4 linked regions of the Homo sapiens genome follow. The protein of the gene in region 2 interacts with the protein of the main gene of each other region in a biochemical or structural test. Each region holds a gene or a part of one and is shown on either strand. Other genes may lie near its edges.

What was found. Proteins that work in one complex are often made in the same cells at the same time.
Region 1: the proteins of CGN (region 2) and MPP7 interact in a test that uses a peptide from one of them, tested with the Homo sapiens proteins (one large-scale study listed by IntAct).
Region 3: the proteins of CGN (region 2) and PDLIM1 interact in a test that uses a peptide from one of them, tested with the Homo sapiens proteins (one large-scale study listed by IntAct).
Region 4: the proteins of CGN (region 2) and CARD11 interact in a test that uses a peptide from one of them, tested with the Homo sapiens proteins (one large-scale study listed by IntAct).

Annotation. Positions count from the first base shown.
Region 1 is NC_000010.11:28,292,027-28,296,974, forward strand, and holds part of MPP7 (MAGUK p55 subfamily member 7), read right to left. Parts: intron 1-4,948. UniProt on the Homo sapiens protein: Acts as an important adapter that promotes epithelial cell polarity and tight junction formation via its interaction with DLG1. Involved in the assembly of protein complexes at sites of cell-cell contact.
Region 2 is NC_000001.11:151,516,939-151,521,886, reverse strand, and holds part of CGN (cingulin), read right to left. Parts: intron 3,382-4,948; 5' UTR 3,368-3,381; coding exon 2,495-3,367; intron 1,722-2,494; coding exon 1,621-1,721; intron 1,474-1,620; coding exon 1,404-1,473; intron 1,292-1,403; coding exon 1,196-1,291; intron 1-1,195. UniProt on the Homo sapiens protein: Probably plays a role in the formation and regulation of the tight junction (TJ) paracellular permeability barrier.
Region 3 is NC_000010.11:95,279,966-95,284,913, reverse strand, and holds part of PDLIM1 (PDZ and LIM domain protein 1), read left to right. Parts: intron 1-4,948. UniProt on the Homo sapiens protein: Cytoskeletal protein that may act as an adapter that brings other proteins (like kinases) to the cytoskeleton. Involved in assembly, disassembly and directioning of stress fibers in fibroblasts.
Region 4 is NC_000007.14:3,036,330-3,041,277, reverse strand, and holds part of CARD11 (caspase recruitment domain-containing protein 11), read left to right. Parts: intron 1-4,948. UniProt on the Homo sapiens protein: Adapter protein that plays a key role in adaptive immune response by transducing the activation of NF-kappa-B downstream of T-cell receptor (TCR) and B-cell receptor (BCR) engagement.

The sequences.
Region 1 (4,948 bases), on a different chromosome or scaffold from region 2:
TGGACCATGTTTAATCTTTTTTACCATATTTTTACTATACTTTTTCTATGTTTACAGATGTTTAGATATACAAATACCATTATGTTCCAGTTGCCTACAGTATTCAGGACAGTAACCTGCTGCACAGGTTTGTAGCCTAGGAGCAACGGGCTATACCATATAACCTAGGTGTGTAGTAGGCTGTGTTATCTACATTTGTGTAAGTGCAGTCTGCGATGTTCACACAATGACGAAATCACCTAATGACACATTTCTCAGAACATATCCCTGTTAAGTGATGCATAGTTGTCGATATATGTAGGATTCCCCTACACCAGGGGAAATAAACAATAGAAAATACAACAGAAGAAAAAATGGCATTCACAGTAGAAACAGAAGCTGAACTAGGGTCTCTTACTGTAACAAAGAAGACAAGATCATTACGGAAAAAAAAAAAAAATCTGACCTCCATTGAATAAAACATTAATACCACTGATAAGTGGTTTCCACTCGGGATATAGATCAGTGTCACCAGAGGAGATTTTAAAAAATACAATTGCTAGACTCCACTCTCTAGAGATTATAATTCAGTTCATCTGTGGTCAATGGGACATATTTTTTTAAAAGCTACCTAGCAAATTCTAATATAAAGCCATGGTTGAAAACTACCAGTTTAAATATGTTTTTAAAATAACACAGGAGGGAGTCATTCTTCTAGATATCAAAATATATAAACAAGTTGTAGCAATAAAAATAAAAGCAAAATCCACTGTGAAATTAGAACAGAAACAGACAAATTGATCAGAACAGAGCAGGGAGCCTAAAAAGGTGAGAGAGAGAGAATGTGTGTGTCTGTGTCTCTGTGTGCATATATACGAGTGTGTGGATCTTGACATATGATACAGGTAGCATCACAAACCACTAGGTTATTTAGTAAATGAGATTTGGGAAAATTCGTTTGCCATAGAAGAAAATACAGAAACATAACTTTGTTAACTAGGAATGGAGAAATATTTCCTACACAAGACCCAGAAGGTTAAAAAAAAAAAAAAAAGGTTGGATCATAACAAAATTAAAGATTCCGTTTAATGAAAGATTTCAAAGAAAAAATCTGACAGGTGAAAAACAAAAGATGCGTATACCATTTAAAATCCAACGAGAGACTGAAAAAAGAAGAAAACTGCTATAAATTAGGGCAGAAAAATGGGAAACAGATATGAAAAGCTAACAGAAAAAGAGGCAAAGGATATATAAATGGCGAACTCAACCGAGGAAAAACACACACAGTATACGATAGGATATTCCACTGCATTAGTAATCAGATAGCTGCAAATAAGAACAATAACATATCACTTTGTGCTGGATTGCTCCATCTGTTGCATCAGATTGGAAAAAATTATAAGGTCAGAAAATGCCACATGCCAGCAAGAATGCAGGGAGCAACAGCTGGTGAAAGTGTCAATGAGATAACAATCTGGTCGTACTTAAGGGAATTATGCATATGCCAGAGAGAGGGTCCCCTGGGGGCAAGGAAGAACATGAATGGGGATAGGTGATGAAGGGGAAAGATACAATAAAATAAGGTGGGAGACTCTACACGGACCAATCATGACAGTGTGCCATGAAGTGAGTGCTAACTCCAGTCCGAGCCCCTGAGCTGGGGAGGGAGCGGAGCGGGGCAGCTCCGCGTCACAGGTCCCTTCACCCAACCAGCAGGTATTCAGTCTCTACATACCAGGAACTGCATCCCATCCTAGCGACCGAGTAGCAAAAGATCAAGCCCTTACCCTCATAGGGTTTATGTCCTAGTGAAGGAAACAATAAAAAGGAAACAAATAAGATAATGATAAGAGAGTGTTAACAGCTAACAAGTAAGACAGTGATAGTGACAGAAAGTGATGGAAAGAGGGTTTCACTAATGAAAGGATAGCCAGAGGTGAGATCCCGCAGGTCTGCAGAAAGAAAATGAACCAGGCATTCAGCAAGCCGAGAGATGAGATCCCAAAGAATTGCGTTCAAGGGCTGGGCGTGGTGGCTCACGCCTGTAATACCAGCACTTTGGGAGGCCGAGGCGGGCGGATCATGAGATCAGGAGATCCAGACAATCCTGGCTAACACAGTGAAACCCTGTCTCTACTAAAAATACAAAAAAATTAGCCGGGTGCCTGTAGTCCAGTTTAAATATGTTTTAAACTGGAGGCTGAGGCAGGAGAATGGCGTGAAGCCGGGAGGTGGAACCTGCAGTGAGCTGAGATCACACCACTGCACTCCAGCCTGGGGGACAGAGCAAGACTCCGTCTCGAGAAGAACTGCGTTCAAGGTCATCAAATACAAAGTTGTCATAGTACAGGCGACAGTGTGTTCTAAAGATGACTTTCAGGTACTTCCTGTCATTCAGCTCCCAGAAGCAACCTTCAAAATACCTGTTATATAAAATGTAAACTATAAGGGTTATTGTGAGAGTCCAACATACGGTGATTAAAGAATGCAAACTTTTTGAAGGGGAAGAGGGAGGAGGCAGCATCGATATGAATGTGCTATGCCTCTAAAAAATGTTTCTGGAAAATTACTAGGATCCACAAACTTTTCCTTCACTCCTTAAAAAGTAATTGAGTAATCATATTTTTTCCCCAGCACAGTGCCAGGAAATGAGGTTAAGTATTAAATTTTCTGTCTTTGCTTCAATTGTATAAGATGCAGGATCCTATTTATTTTATATACGTACTGTTTTTATGGATAAAAGAAAACATTTATTGCATGCTTGCAATCTGCAAGGCCCTGTTCCCTGAGCTTCTACACATTGGAGCCCACTTACATTCACAACAAAATACTATATTATTTCCACTTTAGAGACGGAACAACAGAGGTTAAGAAACTTGCCTAAAGTCAAAGTACTAGAAAGCAGCAGAGCAGAGATTCAAACCCAGGTCTTTCAAAGTGTTAACCACTACACTTACGTTTCCCCCTAGAGTGGCTGGCCCCTGCAGTGGCTGTAGCACATGGCCTTAGAACTTATTAGAAATGCAAATCGCCAGGACCTCCCCTCCCAGACCGACTGATCAGAAATTCTGGGGCTGGAAGGCAGCTGCCTAAGGTTTCACAAGCCCTCCGTGTGATCCCAAGGTATGCTAAAGTTTGAGAACCACTGGTAGAAATTTTTCATACTAAGCATAATGTGAAAGGTGAAATTACTACCATTTTGAAACTTCTAAAATATAAAATTTGTATCCTATTTAAAATGACTATGAAGAAACGAAAACAGTGTTAGTTCATTTCCTCACTGCTCAACTTCTTTCTCCCAAACTTGACAAAATGCCTAATCTCTATCCTGATTATACTATGTACAAAAAGGGTACTCTGATGAGCGTTAGAGCACAGAGGTCTGAACTCACTCTTCAGAAGTAATCAGAAGCCATAATAGGAAGAGAAAAAAACAATATTTTGAATATCAGCAGAAGCTTGATAAATCTTGGGCCATAACTCCAAATTTTGATCCCAGGCTCAACTCCAAATTTTTACAACATGACTTCAACAGTCTTCCCAATGCCAAAAAAAGAAGTTACAACCCCGAGAAATATTTGATTAACAAGATTCAAACTGCTTTAAGTGCACATACAGAGAAACTGTCCAAGAGTGTGTTTTTATCAGGAGTGAAGCTAAGGAATGCCTAATTACACATCAGACCCTCTGACAATATTCACAGCAAAAGGGGTTAACGTTATCCCTGTCCCTGCACACACCTGCCGTGTACGGCATCCTACCTGATCCTTCTCTTTTCAAAGCTATATCTAGACCGGGAGACTTTTCTCCCCAACTCAAGTACTCAATTTGAGCAGTACAGCTCTATGTGTATTCAAGTTTGCCTATTTCTAATAAGGCCTTTTTTTGTTGTTAAAGGGATGGAAGAAAGAGTATGAGAAATAAGTATATTCAAGCACCTACCATAATCTGAAATCTTCCATAAGCCAAATAACTCTCTGAAGCTATTCACTCGCATACTCAAGTCATTAATTTTATAAATTTCAGGTTTCTACTTATTCCAAAAATTTAAAACATAAAATTGAAGATTAAGGAGTACTTAGTCCAAGCTTGGACCACAGGAGAGCTATAAACCTGTCTTAAAATGCTTAATGACCTGATTAAGGTCATCAAAGGTAAAGAAAACTCTAGGAAGCAGCCTTTTAATCTGCCTGGCTACTTACAACCACCCACCTTTTCCATGCCCACGCTCTCCTAAGGGCTGAAGGCACTGCCAAGAATGACCTTCCTAGAAGGGCTGAATCCTATTTATTTTCTCTCTCCCAAATCTCCACCAAATCCCCTAAGAACTGGCAGTGTTCTGGTAAGAAACAATTTACTATTGCTCTCCTCCCCACCCACAGTTCAGTGCAACTGAAGTGAACACACACACACCCCAACCACTGAAAGACTTTCTCACTTAGATTCCTATCCTGCATTTTCAAAGTCCAAAGTTGTCTTCAAAATATCTTGCAAAATGCAGTCGTACCAGCTAGTCTTTAATCTCCACTAACATTGCCAGTTCTATACCCAAAATGGATATCGCAACTGCTATGTATTTTCATCTCCCTTCTCTAACAATCAGTAACAAGCAACCCAATCAGTAATAAACAAGCCTGACAAATAGCTCCTAAATTCACAGAGAAAAGAATGGTCTCCTCTCTTTCATAAGTAAAGCAAGCTGATAATGTTCTAGTAAATAGAAAGACTAAATGCCTCTTCAAGAAAAAAACATTTATATGCCTGGAAAAAACATCTTGGGTTTTTTTGTTTTTGTTTTTTTACTTAAGTATCTGTTCATAGTAGGTAGCAAATAATCTTTCCACACATATGCACTTTACCAGTTCTTTTAAAGACTCAGTAATCTAAGAAAGCAAAGCATAAGACTATGCTGAAAGAGCTAAGCCGCAGTTTACATAAAATTTAAACAAAACACAAGACATTAAAAAAA
Region 2 (4,948 bases):
CTGATCCCAGGTTCTTCATCCTCAGACTCTGGGAAATGCTTTTTTTTTGAGAAAGAGTTTCACTCTTGTTGCCCAGGCTGGAGTGCAATGGCAGGATCTCAGCTCACCACAACCTCCACCTCCCGGGTGCAAGTAATTCTCCTGCCTCAGCCTCCCAAGTAGCTGGGATTACAGGCATGTGCCACCATACCAGGCTAATTTTGTATTTTTAGTAGAGACAGGATTTCTCCATGTTGGTCAGGCTGGTCTCAAACTCCCAACCTCAGGTGATCTGCCTGCCTCAGCCTCCCAAAGGATTACAGGTGTGAGCCACTGCGCCCGGCTGGGAAATGTTTGTTTAAAGCTATTGAGTTTTGGGTAATTTGTTACACAGCAATAGTTAATTAATATAGTACTATCATAATCCCCACTTTACAATTTAGGAAACAGAGGCTTAGAACATTTAAAGAACTTGCCCAAGGTCAGTTACACAGCCAACAAGTAACAGAACCAGGATTTGAACCCAGTTAGTTTGGCTCCACAGCCAATCACTTAATCATTACACTACAGTGATTTCCAAAAGACAAGGGAAGTTACAATCCAACATTTATTGAGCACCAACTACACACAAACCAATATGATGAAAGGCAGAAGACATGTTTTTAAAAAGGGTACACTGGCTTTAGAATAAGACTGACCCGGATTTTTTCATTCCTCTCTGCAACTTACTACCATAGGCAATTTACTTAGCCTCTCTGATCTTCAGTTTTCTCATCAGAAAAGGGTCCAGAATAGGTATTCACAGGGTAACTATAATGATTACAGTACCCAGGACAGTACATACTACCAAAATTATACTCAATAAATGATAGCTACTACTATTGCCATTATTATGATAATGATAAAAAAAAATTGAGGCACAGAGAATGTAAGTAATTTTCTTAAGTTTTATATAGCTAGTAAGGGGCAGAGCCAGGATGGGAACTCCCAAAGGGAGTGGAATGGAAGGTAGGTAGATTCCTAATGTGCTCTGCCTCCCTAACCCCCACAGAACCCCAGAAGTCCTTCCTGGAATTAGTACACATTCTTGTCTCTTGTCTCATAAGACACAAACATGCTTGTTCCATTGCTTAGAAGGGTCAGCTCAGCCCATCTCCAGGCCAAGGCTTTTTCCCTGTTTTCCTTCATGCCTCCGGCACCTCTAACCTTTCCTTACCTTCACCTCTTCATCCAGCTTTCGCTGTAGCTCCTCCACTTTTCGGGTAAGCTCACCCTGCCCTGCCACGGCCTTAGTAGAACCAGAAGAAACCATCTGCCAGAGATATGGGGGGTGTGGGGGAAGGGAGTGAGTCCAAGTCTGGATCCCCTGAGGCCCTCAAAGCTCTAACCTTGACCCTTGCTCCCATCCAGAGAAGGCCACTCACCACTAGAGGCTGCATCTTCTCCAGCACCAAACTAACCTTCCTCCTCACAGAGGTTTCACTTTCTGAGCTTCTAGAGGATAAAAGGATAGAAGCAAGGGTTAGGGGAGGAAAGAGGTAGCAGAGATCAGGAAAGGGTAAAATCAGGGAAGATGGGAAACAAAGCTAGAAGAAAAAGAAGGAGGGGTATGCCTCTGTTGTTGGGGGGGCCCCCACTCACCCCTCCCTCAGGATGCCATAGATGGTGGCCTTCATATGGTCCACACTGCCTGGTGGGGCTGCCTCCTGCTGGTCTCGAAGGAGGTCTGGAGTTGATTTGAACTGTTAAAAAAAAAGAAAAAGAAAAAAAAAAGAAAGAAAGAAAGAAATAGGAAGATTAGGCCAGAAGCATGCGTGGGGTTCAGATGGAGGAGAAGTGGCAGTCTCAGGTCAAGTCCCTTCAAGCATGATGAACAATCCTGAAATGCAGCAAGGAAAACATGCTGTGGAGGCCTGAGCAACAGGCCAGGGAGAGGCCAACACAGGATGCACCTCTGCACTGTTGCTGTAAACCAGATTTTCCTCAACAAACATCTCAACCAGCTGCAAACTGTGCCACAAGTGATTTGTCACTAATGGTAGTTAACATGCTAGAGTTTATAAATAATTTACTTTTAAAACAGACTTACGTTTCTCTCAAAGTAAAGTCACTCCCTCACTTACTTACATTCCTGAGTAGGAGAGAAAGGTGTGGAATTTTGGCAAGAGCACCAAGGAAACTGCTCTTATCCTCCAAGCCCGCCTTACATATTCTGCAGACCTTGCAAATGCTGGTGACTGAGCCATAGTTAATGGTTGTGGCAATGACAACTAGGTCCAAACTTGTGAATAGTGATTTTATAGCTTGCTCCATTTTCTTTAGAATTTTACCCATGGAAATATCCTGTGCATGTGAATATCACCTATTTTGTGGACAGATACAGTAGAGAACAAAAGGCAGAGAGTTTCTGCCTAGGCTATTTGAATTAGCAAGGAGGCTCATGGCTGGTGGGTAAAAGCTGATGAGAAGGGAGAAGGGGCTGACATTTAGAAGTCAGGGAGGGGCTGGGTCTGACCTGCAGCATGGTGGGGTCCTGTGCACTCCTCCGCGGCTCCTCAAAACTCTGAAGGACCCAGTCCTGAGTCTGACGAGAACGGCTAAAGCCACTGAGAGGACTCAGGTTCTGGCTCTGGGCTGGCTGCTTCGAAGTGCCCACATGGTTGTCATATTTTGTGCTAGAGGTCCAGTGGTTGGTGGACTGGCGCTCCCGTTCCTCAAAGGTGTCCCGTGGGAGGCGGCTGTCCAGGCTCTTGCTCCGTTTGCGCTGTTCAGGGGGTAGCATCCGTGTTCGGCGGCCAGTCCGACCCCGGGCCTGGCCTCCAAGTTGACTGTCAAACTTGTTGATGAGTGAGTCCACTGAAGACAGGGGAGCAGTGTCAATGGTGCTACCTGGGGAAGCCACTTTCGGGGCTAGCTCCAGCATGCTGTTGCTTCTGTTACTAGGATCCACTGGGCCAGGGCCTGCCAGTGAGGCCTGGGAGTGGGAACGGAGTAGCTTTCCATTCCAGTAGGCCCCAGGCTCCTCATCAGATGTGCTGCTCTGCGAGGGGGCAGGAAATCCCTTGACCTGAGAGTAGGGGTTCTCAGGGAGTTCCAAATCTGAGCTCAGAGCTCCTGAGGCCCCTTGGTCATTGGCCCCCTTGATTTGGACCCCAAAGGAGTCACCGCCTTTCTCCCCACTGTTGAGCACCACAAAGGGCTGCCCAGCGATTCCCTGCACACGCACAGCAACCCCGTAGGTACTGGCTCTTGCATCCTTAGCTGGGCGTCGTCCACCTCGACGTAGAGTGCCCATCTCTGCACCACTCACTGGCTCTGTGATGAAGCGAATCTGGACTCCATGGTCTACGGGGCCCCGGGGCTCAGCCATGTTGGGTGCCTGCTCCATAAATAGGAGGAGTCCTAGAAGATGAAGAAATGAGTTTAGGCTGAGAGACTTCACTAGAAACTATGAAACTTCTACCTGCGGGCTGACTTCCCTGTCAGTTCCTACTAGATAAACCACTGATTCTCAGACTAACAGAAGGCCCCTGGAGAGCCTTTTAACATACCGGTTGCTGGACCTAACCTCCAGAGCTTCTGATTCAGTAGGTCTGGGTTAGGACTTGAGAATTTGCATTTCTAACCAAGTTCCCCAGGTGATACTGATGCTACTGGTCCAGGTACCACACTTTGAGACTCACTAACCTAAAAGAATCCACTTCCTCTGATACAGCCCTGGGGAGCTAGGCTTTGTTAAAAGTTTAAAGATTTTGCTTGATGGCCAGGAGCAGTGGCTCACACCTGTAATCCCACCACTTTGGAAGGCCAAGGCGGGTGGACTGCTTGAGCTCAGGAGTTCAAGACCAGTCCGGGCAACATGGTGAAACCCCATCTCTACAAAAAATACAAAAATAAACTGGGCCTGGTGGTGCACACCTGTAATCCCAGCTACTTGGGAGGCTGAGGTGGGAGGATCACTTGAGCTTGAGAGAGGCTGCAGTGAGCAGTGATTATGCCACTGTTCTCCAGCCTGGGTGACAGAGTGAGACCCTGTCTCAAAAAAAAAAAAAAAGATTTTACTTGATCTTCATACATACATATAATACCACCATGTGGCCAGGTACAGTGGCTCATGCCTATAATCCCAGCACTTTGGGAGGCTGAGGCAGGTGGATCACCTGAGGTCAGGAGTTCAAGACCAGCCTGACCAACACGGTGAAACCTTGTCTCTACTAATAATACAAAAACTTAGCTAGGCGTGGTGGCGCATGCCTGTAATCCCAGCTACTCAGGAGGCTGAAGCAGAAGAATTGCTTGAACCCGGGAGGTGGAGGTTGCAGTGAGCCGAGATTGCGCCACTGCACTCCAGCTTGGGTGACAAAAGCAAAACTCTATCTCCAAAAAAAAAAAAAAAAAACACTGTGTGCCTTCTTCCCTTCCTCCCACCAAGGGAAGGCAGAACCCACACCCTGCTGAGCAGATACCTCCATCTCACTGGAGAAAAGGGGGCCTTCTCTCCCAGAGCTCATTTAAAATATAGAAGACCTCAAAGTATATCATCCCACTTCTGGAAAGAAACTTAAAAACACTGATAGCAGTGATGCCTTTGAGGTGGAGGAACTGAGGACTAGGAACAGGGATGGGAGAGTTTCTATTCTCTGGAAGAGCAGAAAGGAGTGGACATTCTACTGTATATCTCTTATGTCCCTTTTGAATTTGGAACCACGTAGATGTATTATCTATTCAAGAAAAGGTTGTGTTTTTTTTGAGACAGAGTTTTGCTCTTGTTGCCCAGGCTGAAGTGCAATGGCGTGATCTTGGTTCACTGCAACCTCTGCCTCCCGAGTTTAAGCAATTCTCCTGCCTCAGCCTCCCGAGTAGCTGGGATTACAGGCACCTGCCACCATGCCCGGCTAATTTTTGTTTTTAGTAGAGATGGGGTTTCACCATATTGGCCAGGCTGGTCTCAAACTCCTGACCTCAGGTG
Region 3 (4,948 bases), on a different chromosome or scaffold from region 2:
CACATCCTGGGCAAATTGGGCTGCTCATCCGTGGCTGAGTTCTGTGGTGCACTTTCCCATGTGTAATACACTGTCTCCTTGGTAAATGCCATAAATACTAAAAATGATTTTGTGAAGAACACAGCGGTCTTGTAGGAGGCCAGATTCCTTACTGAACACTCAGGGACTAATTTTTATAGACACGACCATTCGTATCAAGTAAGACAATAAGAACATAGATAGGACCTAGTTTAGATAAAGATATTGAAAATGCATACAGAGGCTGGGCTTGGTGGCTTATGTCTGTAATCCCAGCACTTTGGGAGGCCAAGGTGGGTGAATCACCTGAGGTCAGGAGTTTGAGGCCAGCCTGGCCAACATGGTGAAACCCTGTCTCTACTAAAAATTCAAAAATTAGCCAGGCGTAGTGGCAGGCACCTGTAGTTCCAGCTACTCAAGAGGCTGAGGCAGGAGAATTGCTCTAACTTGGGAGGCGGAGGTTGCAGTGAGTTGAAATCACGCCACTGCACTCCAGCCTGGGCAACAAGAGCGAAACTCCATCTAGAAAAAAAAAATGCATACAGATAGATTAAATATGGTTGATGCAGCAAATAGTTTGCACCCATTTCTTTAAAAAAATAATAAAAAATACTTATGCTTCTGAAGCTGAGCATACCCATACCATATAACCCAACAGTTCTCCTAGTTAAATAGTCAATAGAAACTGGGTCCACATGAGTGCTAAAGGACAAGTTTGAGAATTTTCCAAGCAACACTATTCATAATAGCCCCAAATTTGAAACGATTCACATGTCTAACAGCAATAGAATAGATAAGTAGTGGGTGTAATTATATGGTATAAAACATCACAGCAACAAGAGTGAAGAAATTACAACTATGCACAGTGACATGAAGGAGACACACACACACACACACACACACACACACACACAGAGAAAAAGGCCATACCTAAGAGTGAAGAGTAAATACTGTGTGATTCCAGTTACATAAAATTAGACAGAATTAATCTACAGTGTTAGCAGTCAGGATCATGGCAGACCTTTGCCGGAAGGTCAGTGACGGAAGGCGGGCACAGGGAGGTTTAGCAGTTCAGGTAATGTCCTCTTCTTTATCCCATGCTGTTTCCTTGGGTGTGCTCTGTATGTGAGAATTCAATCAGCTGTATCGTTACCATTTGTGCTGTATACATGTCATCCTTCAGTAAAGGTTACATAGAAGCCCGCGTAATTGTTTAAAAGATCGGACAATATAAACCTACAGAAAGCATAAGGTAAAAGGCTTCCCCAGTCTTACTTTACAGAGGTAAACACAGTGAACAGCTGGCTGCAAACCTTTCCAGACTTTTTCCGCACACGTAGCATTTCTAAAACCAAATTACTATATCTCAGTGAACTATTGGGACTTCATTGCTTTGTGCTTTCTGCCTTATTTTTACTGTAACAAATCAAGAATTAAAGACATCTTAATGTCAAGGGAAAAATACATTTTTGATATCTGCTAGATCTAGTTCAAACCTTATCTTGTCCATTTACTAGCTTGTATGTTCTTGGACAGGTTAACCCCTGAAAATTCAGTGTCCTCATTTGCAATGTGGGAATAATAGCGCTTGTCTTCAAAGGTTGTGGTGAGGATTAAGATGATATATAGAGAGAGCCTAGTGGTACTATTAAACTATTAAATATTAAAAATATTAATGGTAGCTACTATATATTGAGTGTTTATTACGTGCCAGGCATTGTTCTGAACTCTTTACAAATGCAGTCTCATTTAAGCCTTCCAGCAACCTGATGAGGTTGATGCATTATAAATTTCATTTGATAAATGAAGATACTGAGTCAGAGAGAGTAATTCCCTCAAGGTTTAGTGAGTGTTTAGGCTTTGGGTTATGGGTGGTAGCTGTTGGAGCTATTTAAAAGCACGTAGGGTTCATAGGAGCTTGTTTGGAAACTTTTGAGGAACTCGACGACTTCTTGACGGAGTCTCGCTCTGTCGCCTGGGCTGGAGTGCAGTGGCATGATCTCGGCTCATTGCAACCTCCATCTCCTGGGTTCAAGTGATCCTCCCACCTCAGCCTCCCAAGTAGCTGAGATTACAAGCGTGCGCCATCACACCTGGCTAATTTTTTGTATTTTTAGTAGAGATGGGGTTTCACCATGTTGGTGAACAGGCTGGCCTTGAACTCCTGACTTCAAGTGATCCGCCCATCTCGGCCTCCCAAAGTGCTGGGATTACCGGCATGAGCCACCACGCCTGGCCTCGATGACTTCTTAAGAATTTAGTCAGAGTATTCTATTTGGCTACCTGTTTTATTATATTCCTGTCTGAGAAATGGTGGTCGGTCTTTCAGACTGAGAGAGCAGCACGTCTCTTTGAACTGTCACCCCTTAGCACTAATAACTTCTTTTTGCACCATGCATAGTGTGAAGCTGGATTAAGGTGCAACTTATCTACAAGCATCTACCCTATTTTATTGCCTCATTTCCCTGAGAAAATGGTTATAGACTAACCAAGAACATTTTAAAACAGTGTTATGTTTTCAGGTCACCCTGTGTAAATGCATACAGCTTCTGCAGCCATAATATGGCTGTGAAGTCTGTGCCACAGCCTCGGCTCACAAACATACTGAGTCAGAAGATTCTGACTAAAGAGAGTTCAAATTCCACATGTAAATGGCATCCTACAGAGCTGGGTCCTGCTTTATCCCCAGTTTAGAATCTGTTAAATTTGTACCCAAATACCTTGACACAACTGTTAAATCAGCGGAGATTATGCTTAAAGGCATGTAGCATTGCGATTGAACTTGAATCTCACATTTCTTTATCCCAGTTGTATATAATTATTACTATCGTTATTTAGGCTGTCTCTTTCACTTACTTGCAGGCTTGTCTTAGGCTTGTCTTTCACTTAGTTACACATTTACAATATTTAAAACACAAGAACACATATAAGATTTAACAAAAAATTGGAACATGGAAGAGGAAAGAGAGAGAAGTGCCAGGAACTTTAAATCAGTTGGTTCTGTAATTGCACACTACATTTAGCTGTGAGTTTTCTGGCCAAGGGAAAATAGGACCCACGTCGAGTTATTTAGATATCTTGTTTGGAGTTATTATACTTCTACTGGTTGGACGCAGTGGCTCATGCCTGTGAAACTAGCACTTTGGAAGGCCGAGGTGTGAGGATTGCTTGAGGCCAGGAGTTCAAGACCACCTTGGCCAACACAGTGAGACCCCATCTCTATTTAAAAAAAACAACAAAATTACTTATGCAATGCTTCATTTGCATAGCATTTTCAGGGGTGTTAACCAACATTACAGGGGCTGTATTTTTTTGTTTGTGTTTTGTTTGAGACAGCATCCTGCTCTATTGCCCAAGCTGGAGTGTAGTGGTGCTATCATAGCTAACTGCAGCCTCCACTTCCTCCCAGTTTAAGCGATCCTTCCACCTCAGTCTCCTTGAGTAGCTGGGACTACATGCCTGGCTAATTTTTAATTTCTTGTTCAGACAGGGTCCCACTGTGTTGCCCGGACTAGTTTCAAGATCCTGGGCTTAAGCAGTCTTCCTGCTGTGGCCTCCCAAAGTACTGGGATTATAGGCATGAGCCATCCCTGCCTGGCCTATTTTTTTTTTTTTAAGTCTGTTTTGGTAAGAGATAGAGGAATACTATTCTAATGGATATTCCTTTCAAGGGCTTTGTATGTATTTTATAGGAGTATAAGTTCTGCCCTTGAAGGTGTTTCTGGAGGAGCTGAGATTTTAGGGTCTAATTACTTTTTGTCTACCTGATGACTTTAACTTCATTCAGGGAGAGAGTTTAAGGGGAAAAGATAGTCATAGTCATCATCTCTCTTGGTGTTTCCAAACCTGATGAGCATTAACATTTTCTGGGAAGCTTTAAAAAGGTATGGGTTCTTGGGTTTCACTGTATAGGCTGTCTTTGGTGGATCTGAGATGGGTTGTGGAGCTCTATCTATATTTTGAATCCCTGCCCCCATGGGATCTGATGACCAACCTGTTTGAAAACCATTGCCTCATCCTTGCAAATATCACAGTTGGCTGAGTATTGGTGAGTGGGGTTGATTTCTGGCCTGAGGTTTAGAGCCAACTCCAAGGGGCAAGGTTAACAACGTTCCATAAAGAGTCAGGAAATTGACCTGTAGTCCTGTCCACAAATAAGCCTTCTGAATAGACACGGTTTTTCCCTCAAGAAAAAGAAAAAAATAAAACAAAGCAAAAACCTCTGCCTGAGAACCATTTAAACCATTTGACAAATATTTGGTTAAAACCCCCACCTCTGTCAAAAAGGCAACAGTACTGTTTATTATCCAGGCTGGAGTACTTCTGCGAATGAAATGGGGTGGTCTTGATAGTTAAGCTGTTTTGGGCAAATCAGGGCATTTGGTAATCCTAGTCATAAAGTATTTCTACATATAATCATGCTTTCCATAACTTTTAAACTGAGCCAGTGGTCACAAACTCATTTGTATCAAGGGGCTAGGAGGCAACACAAGAGTTTTTAAATTTTTTTTTAATTTTTTGGAGATGGAATCTCGCTCTGTTGCCCAGGCTGGAGTGCAGTGGGGTGATCTTGGCTCATTGCAACCTCTGCCTCCCCGGTTCAAGTGATTCTCCTGCCTCAGCCTCCTGAGTAGCTGGGATTACAGGCACCTGCCACCACCTGGCTAATTTTTTGTATTTTTAGTAGAGACGGGGTTTTGCCATGTTGGCCAGGCTGGTCTTGAACTCCTGACCTCTAGTGATCCACCCACCCTGGCCTCCCAGAGAGCTGGGATTACAGGTGTGAGCCACCATGCCTGGCCTAAAATTTGTTTTTTTAAAAAGAAAATTTACTAAAAAGGACTAATATGCTCATACTTACTCATTTTTGTTAAATTCTGTATGTTATATATGTAAAAGAACATTTTAAAAAATGCAACTTTTAAGAACT
Region 4 (4,948 bases), on a different chromosome or scaffold from region 2:
TCTCAGGGAGGAAGGGCATCCCCACCAAAAGGGGGTGTGGAGCTGGGAGATGGGACAGGACAGCCACCTGTGGACACTGTACTAGGAAGGGGTTGGCAGGGTCACAAGAGGGCGCCCAGGTTCTAGGAGTCCAGGGGTTCGAGACCAGCCTGGGCAACATGGCGGGACCTTGTCTCTACAAAAAATACCAAAAAATTAGCCAGACATGGTGGTGTGCAGCTGTAGTCCCAGCTACTTGGGAGGCTGAGGCAGGAGGATCATTTGAGCCTGGGATGCGGAAGTTGCCGTGAGCTAAGATGGCGCCACTGCAGTCCAGCTTGGGCTACAGAGCAAGGCCCTGTATCAAAAAAAAAAAAAAAAAAAAAAAGAGGGGCAGTGTCTGGACTTCTTTATCCTATGCAGTGATTCTGGACCCTTCCGATAAAAGGCTTGCTTCCTGGGACTGAGGGGCTGTGTGACTGTGGCTTGGTGGTGGCTGGCAGAGGCCGTGGAGTTGAAGACGCACTTGTGATTGTAGCTCCTCATAGCATGTCGGGCATGAAAGGCCAAATAGGGTCCCGATTTTCAGATGATGATGATGAAAAGGCGTGTCAAATGCTGAAAAATGGAGCCTCTTCGAATCCATTTTAAAAACCGCCTTTAGGCACGGTGGCTCACACCTGTAATCCCAGCACTTTGGGAGGCGGAGGCAGGCGGATCGCTTGAGGTCAGGAGTCTGAGACCAGCCTGGGCACCATGGTGAAACCCCATCTCTACTAAAAATACAAAAATTGGGCAGGCGCCTGTAATTCCAGCTACTCGGGATGCTGAGGCAGGAGAATCGCATGAACCTAGGAGGCAGAGGTTGCAGTGAGCTGAGATTGCCCCACTGCACTCTAGCCTGGGCAACAGAGTGAGACTCTGTCTCCAAAAAAGGAAAAAAAAAAAAAAAACAAAAAAAACAAAAAAACACTTTCCATTCCCTCTTGGCCAGGCCCTGCACTATCTGCTTTGCAGGCAGCGCCTCCAGCAGCATTCCGTCTTTTGGGTTGGAGCCCATGAAGGCATGGGTTTGAGGCATGACTACTGATCTGTGCTAGCCGTGTGACCTTAGACAGGCTTCCCGTCACCTAAGCTCTCTGAGAGTCATTTCTCTAATGAAATCAGGATATCAATACTGGTTATTTTCAGTATTGTCAGTTACACCAAGCATAAAATGAGAAAATGCGGCATATGAGCTAGGACTACCTTTGCCGTGATGACTAAGGTCTGGAGCAGATCAGAGGTTGGACCCTGGAGTCCAGACCCAGGGCTGCAGTGCCGGTATCCCCGCAAACACCAGCTGGATGGACCTCGTTACTTTTTTCTGGTGCAACCTCAGATTCCTTATCTGCAATCTCAATCTTACGGGGGAATTATGAGGCCCAAGGAAATCACAGACCGAGCTGATGCTCCGTCAATCTACCCTGTAGAAAAACCCTCACTCTTGGTGGTGGCAGTACCCAATCAGTCTAGAAAATAGCTTGATTGGCTGGGCACGGTGGCTCATGGCTGTAATCCCAGCACTTCGGGAGGCCAAGGAGGAGGATCGCTTGAGTCCAGGAGTTCCAGACCAGCCAGCCTGGGCAACGTGATGAGACCATGTCTCTACAAAAAAAATACTAAAAAATTAGCCAGGCATAGGGGTCTCTCCTTACTTGGGAAGCTGAGGCAGGAGGATCATTTGGGTCTGGGATGCAGAAGTTGCAGTGAGCCGAGATCACACCACTGCGCTCCAACTTGGGCGACAGAGCGAGACCCTGTCTCAAACAAAAAAAAACGAAAAAAAGAAAGGAAATATTTTGATCGATTGATTGAAATACAGAAACAAAAAGAGAAGGAAAAGAGAACCTTCGAGGGAGCCCCTTAAACATGCTCTTCTGCCAAAGAAAAATTAGAAGGCAGCTGGGCGTGGTGGCTCACGCCTGTAATCCCAGCACTTTGGGAGGCCGAGGTGGGCAGATTGCCTGTGTTCAGGAGTTCGAGACCAGCCTGGCCAACATGGTGAAACTCTGTCTCTACTAAAAATACAAAAAAAATTATGCCAGGGTGGTGGCGGGCGCCTGTAATCCTAGCTATTCGGGAGGCTGAGGCAGGGGTATTGCTTGAACCACGGAGGCGGAGTTTGCAGCGAGCCGAGATCGTGCCACTGCACTCCAGCCTGGGCAACAGAGCGAGACTCCGACTCAAAAAAAAAAAAAAAAAGAAAAGAATAAAAATTAGAAGGCACAGATTCCAGATGCCAGCCTCTTCCTGTGGCAGGCCACATAAGAAAATCACGGCCAGGGCACTGCACGCTCCATACAAAGAACACGCCCCATGCCTTGTCTGCGTTCTCTCCTTGAGGGACTGCCGCTCTCTGGGTCAGTGGTTTTAATGGGGTGATTATTTTCGGGAGGGTAACCTTTTGGGTTGTGATTTGTTCAAGGGCTCAGAGATTATAATGGTTGCTGTCACATTTCTGTAATAGGTGTTGGTGGCCGAGAGCCAGAGGGTGATAAAAGTCCTTCCAGTCCCATCTGTGTGGCTGTCACTTCTTCTTCCCCTGTCCTGCTACTCCAAGCACAGTCATTCCTCCAAAGTGCTGGGTTCCTCCTGGCCCAGCCGGGGCCATTCCTTAGTGGGCATTATTCTTGCAAGTGTGAGAGCCAGAGAGGGGCATGTGTAGTATCCATGCTCACAAACAGGGCTCCATCCTCCTTTGTGTGGTTTCTGTGTCTAGCATGTCATCTTCCTTCCTGCCCCTCTGCAACTGAGGAATTTGCTGTCTTTATACCCAAGTATCACAGCAGCAGAATGGGGGCTGCCCCATGCCATGTCCTCGGTCATGGTGGTATCAAAGGCAACACCTGCCAGGACAATGCTGGTTATGATTTCTGCCGTCCCCTGGGACTGGCCTCATTCCTTAAGAGGCAAGATTAAAAAAAAATAAAAAGCCAGGCACGAGGGCTCATGCCTATAATCCCAGCACTCCAGCACTTTGGGAGGCCAAAGCGGAGGATTGCTTGAACTCAGGAGTTCGAGACCAGCCTGGGCAACATAGCGAGACCCCATCTCTACAAAAAATTTAAAAATGAGGCAGGTATGGAGGTATGCGCCTGTGGTTCCAGCTACTCAGGAGGCTGAGGTGGGAGGATTGCTAGAGCCCAGGAAGTTGAGGCTGCAGGGAGCCGTGATTGCACCACTGCACTCCAGCATGGGCAGCAGAGTAAGAACCTGTCTCAAAAAAAAAAAAAAAAAAAGGCAAACCTGCTTTCTGGAGAGATCTACAGACTTAGAGCCTGACAGACAAGGTGCCCATTCCGGCTCCACTGCCTGCAATCTCGGTGACCCCAACAAAGTCACATGATGATTTTGAGCCTCAATTGCTGCACGTGTAAAATGGGTATAAAATTACCACCCCTAGCTGGGCACAGTGGGTCACACCTGTAATCCCAGCACTTTGGGAGGCCGAGGCGGGCAGATCATCTGAGGTCAGGAGTTTGAGATATGGCAAAACCCCGTCTCTACTAAAAGTACAAAAATTAGCCAGGCATGGGGGTGAGCACCTGTAATCCCAGCTACTCGGGAAGCTGAGGCGGGAGAATCACTTGAACCCGGGAAGTAGAGGTTGCAGTGAGCCACGATTGTGCCACTGTACTCCAGCCTGGCCAACAGAGCAAGACTCTATCACAAATTAATAATAATAATGATACCACCCCTAGATTAGCATAGACCAAAGTGTTTCCAAACGCACCAAATGTGTCAAGGGGTTCTGCAGGCTTCTGCTTTTAAGTTTTACTTCTGACTTGCTTATTCAGAGGCCAGGAGGGAGAACAGAGAGAGATGAGCTAAATGCAAAACAGAGTATATGTGGCAAAGAGCTATTTCCTTAATTTACTAAGAACTCTTGTAAACCAATGAGACATGGGAACTGGCACACTTTTTCTCGAAAGCTCCAAATAGTAAATATTTTAGGCCTTGTGAGCCAGAGGGTCTCTGTCGAAGCTAGCAACTCTGTCCTTGCGGGGTGGAGGCGGCTGCAGTTGGGAGTGAGTATGGCCACCTTCGGCACAGTGGATGGCACAGGACTGGACCCTCAGTGGGAGTGTCCAGACCCCAAAATTAGAGAATTCAACCAATGGAAAAAATGGTGAAAGGGTACAAACACACGGAATATGAGCAGGTCAGTCAGCATGCTTCGTTTGTAATTAAATCCATGTGAAGTAATACAACAGGGACATAGCGTTTTCCACCTGTCAGACTGGCAAACATCAAAAAGTTTGATAGGCCAGGCGTGGCACCTCTCACCTGTGATCCCAACACTTTGGGAAGCCCAGGTGGAAGGATCACTTCAGCCTAGGAGTTCGAGACCAGCCTGGGCAACATAGTGAGATCCCACCTCTACAAAAAAACTTTAAAAAATTAGCCAGGCATGGTGACACACACCTGTAGTAGTCCCAGCTCCTCCAGAGGCTGAGATGGGAGGATCACTTGAGCCCAGGAGTTTGAGGCTGCAGTGAGCTAGGATTGCACTACTGTACTCCAGCCTGGGCAGTAGAACAAGACCCCATCTCTAAAAATAAAATAAAAAAGAAAGGTAAAACTGATTGCCCATCAGTAATAATAATAATAATAATTTTTAAAAATTAAGGTATAACACACACACAGTACAGTCTTAAGCGTACAAACAGCTTGACGGGCCTTCACATGCCCTTCTGGAGCCAATCACCCAGATCAAGATTTGGGTCCTTTCTAGGTTCTGGGGAAGTGCCATATCCCCTCCCAGTCGTTACCCCTCCCCTGTCCCCTAAGGGAGGACCCTTCCAACCTCTATCACCATCCCTGTCCTTGAACTTGACGTGGACGGAGTCACATTCAATGTTTCTTTTTCATTGCTACACAGTATTTCATGGCATAAATTTACCGCAATAGGGGCAGGCGCTGTGTC